Linked DNA regions of Homo sapiens: region 2 is linked to region 1. Evidence: fine-mapped expression QTL. A gene starts in region 1. The other region holds a variant in brackets. All regions are shown on one strand. Distances are between the middles of the regions. Region 1 holds the start of CNTN4-AS1 (CNTN4 antisense RNA 1). Region 2 overlaps CNTN4 (contactin 4).

Region 1 (5,385 bases):
ACAAGTAAATGTCCTGAAGATGAGACTTGAATATTTTCTCTTGATTAGCTAAGTCTTTTGTATATTTACTGTAAGTATATCTGTTGTTTCCCTCACCCCCCATTGCTAAAAGGGTAAGTTCTAAGCTTGAGCATTTAAGGCTCTTTTTTTTTTGAGACGGAGTCTCACTCTTGTCACCCAGGCTGGAGTGCAATGTTGCGATCTCGGCTCACTGCAACCTCCGCCTCCCAGGTTCAAGCAATTCTCCTGCCTCAGCCTCCCGAGGCGCCCACCACTACACCGGACTAATTTTTGGATTTTTAGTAGAGACGAGATTTCACCATGTTAGTCAGGCTGGTCTCAAACACCTGACCTCAGGTGATCTGCCCGCCTCGGCCTCCCACAGTGCTGGGATTACAGGCTTGAGCCACCGCACCCGGCCCTTAAGGCCCTTTTTAATCCAAAACGATTTAACTGTGTATCCAGCCACAGTAAGCCCTCCCTGACCCCTGAACACTGCTTGCTTTTGGTCTCACCTCTGTGCCTTTGGTCTTATGGCTGCCCCTTCCTGAAATGCCTTCTCCACCCTTCTCTCCCATTCAGATCCCTGCTGTCCTAGGGTAGCTCCAGCCCCAGTTTGTCTGCAAAGACTTCCCATGCTTCAGTCCTTTATGACATTCTCGCTTGGAAGTAGTTGCATCCCCTATCAATGCTGCTCATTTAGTAATTAATCAGATACTACTTTTGGAAATCTCTTGTACTGTTATCTTGCATTTTAATTTAACTCCTGTATTGTTACTTACTTTTTCTTGTATGTATGGCTTGTCTTCCCAACTAGATTGTAAGCTCCTTGAGGGCAGGGACTTTGGTCTTATCTTCCATGTACTCTCCATAGTGCCTAGCACAGTGCCTTGCAATAAATACTCACTGATTAATTGAATGAAGGGGTCTTTGAAGTAGCATTTTGCATCAGTTGCCTGCCTGTGTGCCACAGCAAACCAACCAGGGAAGACTGTGTCATTACTTTCGTTATGTGCTGAAAAGCGTTAAAAGGCCTGGCTTCTAACTTTGTACCTGGAAGAAGTCTTTGACCAATTGGCTTCATCATCGGGTAAATGAGGTCCTGGATTAGTTGAGTCTAACTGAATTGAAGATGTTTTAGAAAGTGCCCCATGAGCACCTCCACCCAAACTTGTCTCATTTGTTGGCTTTCATGGTTGCCTCAGGTAGGGTCCACTGGCTGTAAGCAAAGAAACGACCCTGGGTAACTTGAGCAAACAAAAAGTAAGGAATTAGAATGACACAGGTTACATCATATGAGCCAAGGAAACACTGAAGGACCAACTCTTGAGGAGAATAAGAACCAGGCCACTCTGTGGGTCCAGACAATGGGAACTTTGGAAAGTCTTTTTGGGGTGCTATTGTGGGGATGAATCAGCTTTGTTTCCAATTTTGACGCCATTATGCTCAATATTCAGATTCCTGGGAAAGTGATCAGTTCCATTTGAGTTCCACAGCCAGAGTACCTTGTACTCACAGGGGAGGGATAGTTAAAGGAAAACTAAGATGCTGTTTTCCAAAGGTAAGAGAAGAAATGCTGGGTTGGTATAAGTAACAGATTTTCTAGGCTTAGCCAGCCAAGGGGACTTTCTTAGGCCCTTAGCCCAAGTAATACACTCGAGTGGAATGACTATATTGCTGCTTGAGATTTTTTTCTGAAGGAGGACCACTAGGAAAATTTGCTTTGCTTGTTTAACCTTTCAAAGTGCTTACTCTTGCCCTCCTTTTTGTGTGTGTAGTCCACTTGTGATTTAACTGTATGAAAGGAAATTCTATTGTGCCAGATATTTGGATTCTCTCAGTGTACCTACTTTCTATGGAGCCCACACATGCTACATACAAAGCAGCACCTTTCCATGGGCACAGAAGACATGGATGATAAGCTTCATTTCTCAGGTAAGCTCTGAATTCTTCCAGCCTGTGAGGTAGAAGGTGCATAGACTTTGATATTAAGAAAGAATGATTGTGTTATTCCCACCATCAAAATTGTGGTTGTTTATATCCAGGAGGCAATGTTAAATCCTGATTAACCTTTACCCAGTCTCTTCCACCACCTTGCCTCACTACAAATATGCGCAAAGAATGTTGAGTTATAAAAAGTATACAAATAGCACATAATTAGCAACAAAAATGTCATGCAGTTTTTAATCTAATGTAATCAACCAACAGGTGATTTTTGTTCACTACATTGGATTATCGATGCTACTGTTCTCCTCCGTTAACACTTATAATCAAGAAGTGACTGTTATTTTCCTGTTGTTACAATTTACAAAATGTTCTGGCTAAAAACGTTATGTGGCCAACCATAGTGCTTTGAAAGGCAAGCCTTTAAAATCAAGGACTTATATTCAATCTGTGGACATACCCCAGATTTTTCCATTACAAAATGCCAGACACTGAGGCCTTACAAAGGCAGCCTAATACAAAGACTAAGGACGTGGATCCTGGAGTTTGACTGCCTGGGGTGCATTGTAATGATTGGCTACTTATTAGGGAGGATAAAGTTTGTAAAGCTCTCCAAACAGTGATGATTTTACCGTCTGTTATTGTTCTTTTTCTCCAGGGACTTTACTAGACCCACAGATGTAGGATGTGGATGCTTCTTATCACCAAAATGAGTGGAACTCAGCTGACACATCCATTATCACCTTTTATTTAAACATGATCACTTCTTAATATAAATTTTAATGTTCGATAATTTTAATCATACAATCAACTAATTCAAACTTAGGCAGTAGGGTTCCCATTCAGATGCCAGGTTTTGCACAAAGCCTCCCTCAGCTTCCCCATCTGAAATTGACCTTGCATTTCTCTGACCTCCAGGGGATGGGGTCTGTACCCACTCATGTCAGTCATCCCTTCGTACCTTATATTTAAATCATTTTTGTTGGTGTCTTCCGCCTTATAGTAGACACACGGCACCTCAGCGTTGGCATCTGGGTGTGGTTCCTCATTGTGCTCCCAGGCACAAGGCCTGTGTCACCTCCATCTCAGACCTAGAGGGAGGAGAATATCTGGCCCCGTTTCCTGTGATTTCCTCAGGCCCCCTGCCAGAGTGTGATTAGTAAATGCAAGTCAGGCTGCCCATTCTGCAAAGAGGCCCCGTTTCCCCTTGTGCTAAATGGGCCATGCGGATTAAATGTTCCAGCTCTGCAACTCACCTGCAAACTACAATACTCAACAGAGATCACAGTTTAAACAAAATTGGCCTCTATCCTTTATCACAAGCAGTTATGGGCCATGGTAGATTAGCAGAGCTCTAGTGATATAGATCACATAGAGAGAAAGCTTTTTTTAAAAAAGGTCAACCATATGATCGATCTGAAAGTCTGGAAATTGGAAGGCTGAGCTACTTAAATATAGATGCAATTACATGTGATATCCCCATTCTCTGTAAACTGGGTTTTTGCCACATATCCTTATTGTTAGGAATAACACGAACTATACCAGGAAATATATATGTCCTAGGACTTTAACAAATAGTAATATCTTTAATTTGTTTTTCTAGTTTTCAAAGTGCTTTTCACACTAATAAGGGGAGGACATAGGTTTTTATTCCTTTTTTATTTATGAAATGGAAGCAAAGAGGTTATATAAGAAGCCCAAAGTAACATAGACAATTAGAAAGTCAGGGCTGGGCATGGTGGCTCACACCTGTAATCCCAGCACTTTGGGAGACTGAGGTGGGGGGATCACAAGGTCAAGAGTTCGAGACCAGCCTGGCCAACATGGTGAAACCCCATTCCTACTAAAAATACAAAAATTAGCTGGGCATGGTGGCACGTGCTTGTAGTCCCAGTTACCCAGGAGGCTGAGGCAGGAGGATTGCTTGAACCTGGGAGGCAGAGGTTGTAGTGAGCTGAGATTGCCCTACTGCACTCTAGCCTGGGCAAGAGAGTGAGACTCTGTCTCAAACAAAAGAAAAAAAAAAAAAGAAGGACTAGAATTTAGAACATAGACTCATTAGTGCATTTCATACACCTAGAAATAAGTACTTAGAGAAAGGACAGGATGGAGTAAGGAACTAGACTCTGAAGTTCAACTAGAGAACATTCTAGGACAAGTAGGTAGGCCAGAGGAAATGGTGAGGTAGAAGGGTGAGATGTCTGAGGTTCAGATGCTGGAGGTGGAGAAGTTCTGAGTGCCGGCCAGGCCCAGGGCACAGCCATCTGGAGGAATGGGATAGGATAGGTGCCTGGAGAGGGTTTTAGTTATTCAGCAAGGGACTACTGGCAGCCCTCTCTGTACCAGGCACTATTCTGGGCATAGAAGAATGATGTGGCATTCAGATGTGTGTGAGGAAGCCAAGGCACCAGTAACAGTATTTTGTCACAATACAGAGAAATGCAATGATAATAATAATAGTAAACAGTGATTATGCTTATAATATGTGCCAGACTCAGTGCAAATCAACCTACCGATTTAGTTACCATTTATTATTCCTATTTTATACACAGAGGATTGAGGTTGACAGGTTCACATTTGTCCCTGATCACACAGTTGATCAGAGAGACCAGGAATTGAAATGCTGGTGGCTTGGGTTTAGGGCCCTACTCCAAAACATTAGATGTCTCTATCTGTAAATAGATGATACATAAACAATAAGGTAGGTAGATAGATAAATAGACAGATAGATACGGTTCCCATATAGCAACAAGAAGGAAAGGCAGTCATGAGCTTCAGTCTGCTCTAAAGTGGCTCAGCTTCTCTGCTTCTCTTTCCTTGACTGCAAATGTTGTTTTTTGCGTGTTCGTTGTCCTTGACTTCAGGTGTCTTAGAGCTGTTTCTTTAAACTCCGGCTACCCTTCAAGATCAGGATTACCCAATAAAATAGGAGAGGAGCTATTAAACTTAGATTTCAGATAAAAAAAAAATTATGCTTCCTTAGTATAAGTATGCCCCATGTGATATTTATTTGAAATTCAACTTTAACTGAGCCTCTTATTTTTATTTGCTAAATCTGGCAACCTGACACCAGGAGGTCTTCATTACTCTCATTGAAGTAATTAATTTGTAATTCAAAATTTCAGGGTCTTGCGAATGTGTTGTCAGATCTCTGAAGGTCAATGGCTCTGAGGGCGAGACATGAAGTTTGCTGTTTTGAGTTCTGTTTCGTTTGCTGAACTCTCCTTCCCACTTTTCCTTGGATGGTGTGAGGATGGGATGTGTGTGTGTCCAGAGAGACAGGGCTGGTGGGTGAAGTTCCTCTTAGAGCTGGCAGAAAAGAGGTTTTGTTTTTTTTTTGTTTGTTTTTTGAGACGGAATTTTGCTCTTGTTGCCCAGGATAGAGTGCAATGGCGCAATCTCGGCTCACTGCAACCTCCGCCTCCCGGGTTCAAGTGATTC
Region 2 (5,385 bases), 18 kb before region 1:
AGGATGTAGACAAGAATGTTACAAGGGAAACAAAAACGATTTTTGCATTTGAGTGAAACTACTGTGATTTCTGAAGACCACCTTCCTTCTTTCCCAGACGGTCCCTGAGGAATTACAGAATGGTCGAGGCTTTGGTTATGTGGTGGCCTTCCGGCCCTACGGTAAAATGATCTGGATGCTGACAGTGCTGGCCTCAGCTGATGCCTCTAGATACGTGTTCAGGAATGAGAGCGTGCACCCCTTCTCTCCCTTTGAGGTTAAAGTAGGTGTCTTCAACAACAAAGGAGAAGGCCCTTTCAGTCCCACCACGGTGGTGTATTCTGCAGAAGAAGGTATCGTTTATGCTGCCTAGATCATTGACTGTTAATATTTCTTCAATTCTAAAATGTGGATTGTAGCACGTACAATCAATTTCGCATGGTACATGTATCTTGAAGGCATACCTGATTTGAGAAGAGGATAATGTAAACAATTTGGTTCGCTGTCCACCATGAATCTCTTGAAAAGATAGCGACTGCTCTGTATATGAAAACACTTGGCTGTCCATTATTGATTCCATTGCTAAGGACCAGAATTGCAAATACCATATAAGATCTTCATATCTATCTATATGTTATCATTACTTTCAAAAGAATTTTATTTTTGCCTTTAAGTGAATATCAAAATATAATTTGCATTTTCTTACCACTTGTATTTTCATAAAGCATATGGTACTTGTGGCTCACACCTGTAATCCCAACACTTTTGGGAGGCCAAGGCGGGTGGATCACCTGAGGTTGGGAGTTCGGGACCAGCCTGACCAATATGGAGAAAACCCATCTCTACTAAAAATATAAAATTAGCCAGTTGTAGTGGCACATCCCTGTAATCCCAGCTACTCAGGAGGCTGAGACAGGAGAATCACTTGAACCCAGGAGGCGGAGGTTGCGGTGAGCCGAGATCGCACCACTGCACTCCAGCCTGGGCAACAAGAGCAAAACTCCATCTCAAAAAAAAAAAAAAATCTCACTTATTAAAGAAAAGAGTAAGTCATGAAGCAGTGTGATTGCGCTCACTGTCATCCACACCATCATTATGTTTAACATTTCTCACACATTATTATCACCTCCATGCTATCCCTGCTCTCGGGATGCCTCTCACACAGTCTTCGTTACCTTTGGAGTTCGTCTATGTTGTTTTAAAGATGATGCTCAGAATGGGACCATGTTAAAACATCTGAAAGGTGAATCATTGATTTAGAGTCAGTGAAGATGCAATAACTTATTCCCAATCAGAGAGATCATCCCCTTAGACTCAGTAGCCCTCCATGATCTAGCTGCTGCCTCTCTGTCTGCCTCAGCTGCTGATGCCTTTCCCTGCATATTTCATGTTCCAACCATTGCCAAAGGATTTACAATTATTCAAACAAGCTTCAGCCCTTTTCATAGCCTTCAACTTCTCTTAGATAATAGTTCATGTCTCTGGATTATGAAAATGAGAGGAAAAGGGGAAAAGGACAGTCAGCTGACTTGACTAAGATTCAAGAGAGCTGGATGACACTTCAGGTTCACACTGCAATCTGTATGATCTTGGATAACTCAGGTATACTCTGTGGGCCTCAGCATCTTTGGCTGCAAAGGAGAGGCTAGACTGACTGTTTCCCAAATTTCAGTTATTTTTGCCAGATTTCTGCCATAGCTGTGTACCATTTGTATATGTTCACATTTTTCTTTCAATAGTCTTCCTTAAAAAAAATTTAGTGGGCAAGCACAGTGGCTCATGCCTGTAATCCCAGCACTTTGGGAGGGGGATGTGGGAGGATAGCATGAGCCTAGGAGTTTGAGACCAACCTGGGCAACATAGCAAGATCCAAGTCTTTACAAAAAAACATTAGCCAGGCGTGTTGGCACATGTGTGTGTGGTCCCAGCTACTTGGGAGGCTGAGGCGGGAGGATGGCTTGAGCTCAGGAGGTCAGGCTGCAGTGAGCCATGATTGTGCCACTACATTCCAGCCTAGGTGACAGAGTGAGACCCTATTTCAAAAAAGAAAAAGAGAAGCAGTTTAGCCATGTCGTAAGCAATAACATTTGTGAGATGCTAATTAAGAAGGATCTGTGTTAAGGGAATTGCTGGCTATGAAAACTTGGTGCTTAAACTTAAGTGGTTCTTCTCTTCTACCCACACCTAAATTCAGAACCCAAACACTGGACAAATATTCACTACCACCAACTCCAGCTATTAATCACTGCCCCTCTGCAAAATGAGGGTTTGGCTTACAATCATTAAGGACGATTCTATAACCATGAATTATTTTACCTTATAATGCTAGTATCTACAATCCTGTCCTAATATAGCTGATAGAGTAATAACTATCTCCATATTCATCTACAGAACCCACCAAACCACCAGCCAGTATCTTTGCCAGAAGTCTTTCTGCCACAGATATTGAAGTTTTCTGGGCCTCCCCACTGGAGAAGAATAGAGGACGAATACAAGGTTATGAGGTAGGCAAGACATATGTGCCTTGGGTCTGAAAGAGAGTCTATGCCCCTTGATAAGTCCTCCAAGTCACATTCTTATAGGAAGAGACCCACATTCCCACTAAGAGGCATTGGTTTTAGGCCTGGCTTCCAGCTGAACATTAATGGAAGCATTGAATACTCAGCTGTGAGACTACCCTTTTTCTATGTTATATTCTAGAGGTATTTTTCGAATTATATGCAAATCTAAGCATTTACGGGATGGTTGGCAAAATGAGCTTTGACTTCTGATATGCCCAGGATCACTTTGACTCAAAACAAACATGGGAAAAAAGAAAATAATGAACGACGGTTGTGTCAATGTACCGTCTCACTAGGAAGCTAAGGACAAAAAAGGGACCCTTCTTACTTTGGATAATTTCTCAGGATATACAGAGTCCTTTGTCCTGATAGCTCTGCTCATGATGTAGTATAGAAAACTAACTCCATCATAAGAATCTGCGTACAAAATTACCTGATGACATTGCAAATATCCCCATTGGGTATGGTTTCCAAGGTCTTTCTGTTTAT[C/T]TTCTTAGGTTAAATATTGGAGACATGAAGACAAAGAAGAAAATGCTAGAAAAATACGAACAGTTGGAAATCAGACATCAACAAAAATCACGAACTTAAAAGGCAGTGTGCTGTATCACTTAGCTGTCAAGGCATATAATTCTGCTGGGACAGGCCCCTCTAGTGCAACAGTCAATGTGACAACCCGAAAGCCACGTAAGAACAGACTTGCTCAGAAATATTTTGGGGATTCATCACACATATCCCAAGTTTATTCCTTATCCCCACCTCCCAATGATCATTTGCATACTAATTAGTAGCATGTGGATTCAAATTTCCCTCAGCATTTTAACTGAACCTTTCCGTATACCACGCAAAATTCATTGCTGTGGAGGACAGAAAGATAAATGTTTTTCTCCTCACTGGGAAGGGCTACTTCTTTTAGCTATAAATGTTAGGCGACCAACTGAATCTTTTTCCATTTGCAATGCTGTATCTCATCAGATTTTAGTGACCTTGAAGACACATATTAGTGCAATAGCCCATTAAATTGCCTCCACTCTCGAATTCTAGTAAGGAGATATTCCTCAGAATCCATTGAGACTTAATAATCTGTGACTTCGTATATCTTAATTTTTTTATAGCACCAAGTCAACCCCCCGGAAACATCATATGGAATTCATCAGACTCCAAAATTATCCTGAATTGGGATCAAGTGAAGGCCCTGGATAATGAGTCGGAAGTAAAAGGATACAAAGTAGGTAATTTCTTTTTTGCAAAGGCACCTAATCGTGCTGTGAGTGGGGGCAGTCTCCTCCATGAATTATACAGTTGTCTGCATTGTCAGTTTCCCTGGTGATGCTCTCCTACCCTCTAGGAATCGCTGCCTCCAACACGGTTTGATCTGAGTTGTATAAATAGTCTATGGCAATTGGTCAGGATTTAGACAATCACCTTAACTTTAGTCTCAGGCAGCATCAATCAGAAATGGATAAAGACCCTGTGTTTGGGTCTCCAAAAATACCCTGAAGAACCACTTTTTAAACATTCCTACTGTCAGCTTCGTTTTGCTCCTGTCTCGGTTTATATATATTTTTTAGTCAACTTAGTAGCCTCCTGATATTACCAATGATTAATCATTTTTGTTCGTATGTTTCTATAGTCAAGAGTTATATAAAGAAAAAGAGAAAAGAGAGAAAAAGCAGGAAAAGTGGAGAAAATGTTTGCCTGACCCCATAAATGTTGGCTTGTCTTTAATGAGAAAATGAAAAGAACATGTCTGTAGCCTTCTTGCAGCAATCAAAAAGGGTTATAAATATCTTGCAACGTTTCCAGCTACCTATTTGCTACCTAACAAACCAACCTGAAGCTAGGGGCTAAAACAGCAACAGTGTATCATTTTTTATGACTTTGCAATGTGGATAGGGCCAGAATGGACAGATTTTAGGGCTGGAATAACTAAGATGCTTCTTCACACACTTTTGGCTTCTTGGATGGGATAGGTGGGAAAGCTGAGGCTGGCCAGTGATCATGCTCTCTATGAGGCCTTTCCCCACGGATAACCTGGGCTTCCTCACAGTATGGTGACCTCAGAGTAGTCGGATTTCTTACATAGTTGTCAGCTTCAAGAGGAAGAAAGCAGAAGCTGCCAGCCCTTTTAAAAGCTAAGGATGGACGTGGGCAGTTCCAAGATGGCCAAATAGGAACAGCTCCAGTCTATAGCTCCCAGCGTGAGCAACGCAGTAGACTGGTGATTTCTACATTTCCAACTGAGGTACTGGGTTCATCTCAATGGGGCTTGTCGGACAGTGGGCGCAGGACAGTGGGGGAAGTGCACCGAGCATAAGCTGAAGCAGGGCGAGGCATCGCCTCACCTGGGAAGGGCAAAGGGTCAAGGAATTCCCTTTCCTAGCCAAGCAAAGCTGTGACAGACAGCACCTGGAAGATCAGGGCACTCCCACCCTAATACTAATACTGCGCTTTTCCAATGGTCTTAGCAAACGGCACACCAGGAGATTATATCCCATGCATGGCTCAGAGGGTCCCATGCCCGGCTCAGAGGGTCCCATGCCCACAGAGCCTTGCTCGTTGCTAGCACAGCAGTCTGAGATCGAACTGCAAGGCAGCAGTGAGGCTGGGGGAGGGGGCGCCTGCCATTGCTGAGGCTTGAGTAGGTAAATAGCGGCCTGGAAGCTCAAACTGGGTGGAGCCCACTGCAGCTCAAGGAGGCCTGCCTGCCTCCTTGCCCTCTGGGGGCAGGGCATAGCCAAACAAAAGGCAGCAGAAACCTCTGCAGACTTAAATGTCCCTGTCTGACAGCTTTGAAGAGAATAGTGTTTCCCCCAGCACGGAGTTTGAGATCTGAGAATGGACAGAC

What was found.
Region 2: its variant is fine-mapped to the expression of CNTN4-AS1 in whole blood (TOPMed, PIP above 0.99).

The regions. Positions count from the first base shown.
Region 1 is chr3:3,058,162-3,063,546 of GRCh38, forward strand. CNTN4-AS1 (CNTN4 antisense RNA 1) reads right to left here and starts at 2,984. Exons shown (of 4, transcript NR_046554.1): 1 at 2,906-2,984.
Region 2 is chr3:3,039,940-3,045,324 of GRCh38, forward strand. It overlaps CNTN4 (contactin 4), which reads left to right. Exons shown (of 25, transcript NM_175607.3): 20 at 98-332; 21 at 2,371-2,483; 22 at 3,038-3,224; 23 at 3,653-3,765. CNTN4-AS1 (CNTN4 antisense RNA 1) reads right to left here. Exons shown (of 4, transcript NR_046554.1): 2 at 2,974-3,074; 3 at 1,106-1,215; 4 at 1-443. Among named protein-coding and RNA genes, the nearest start is that of CNTN4-AS1, 19 kb to the right of the region's middle. The variant C/T (reference allele first, on the strand shown) is at 3,030.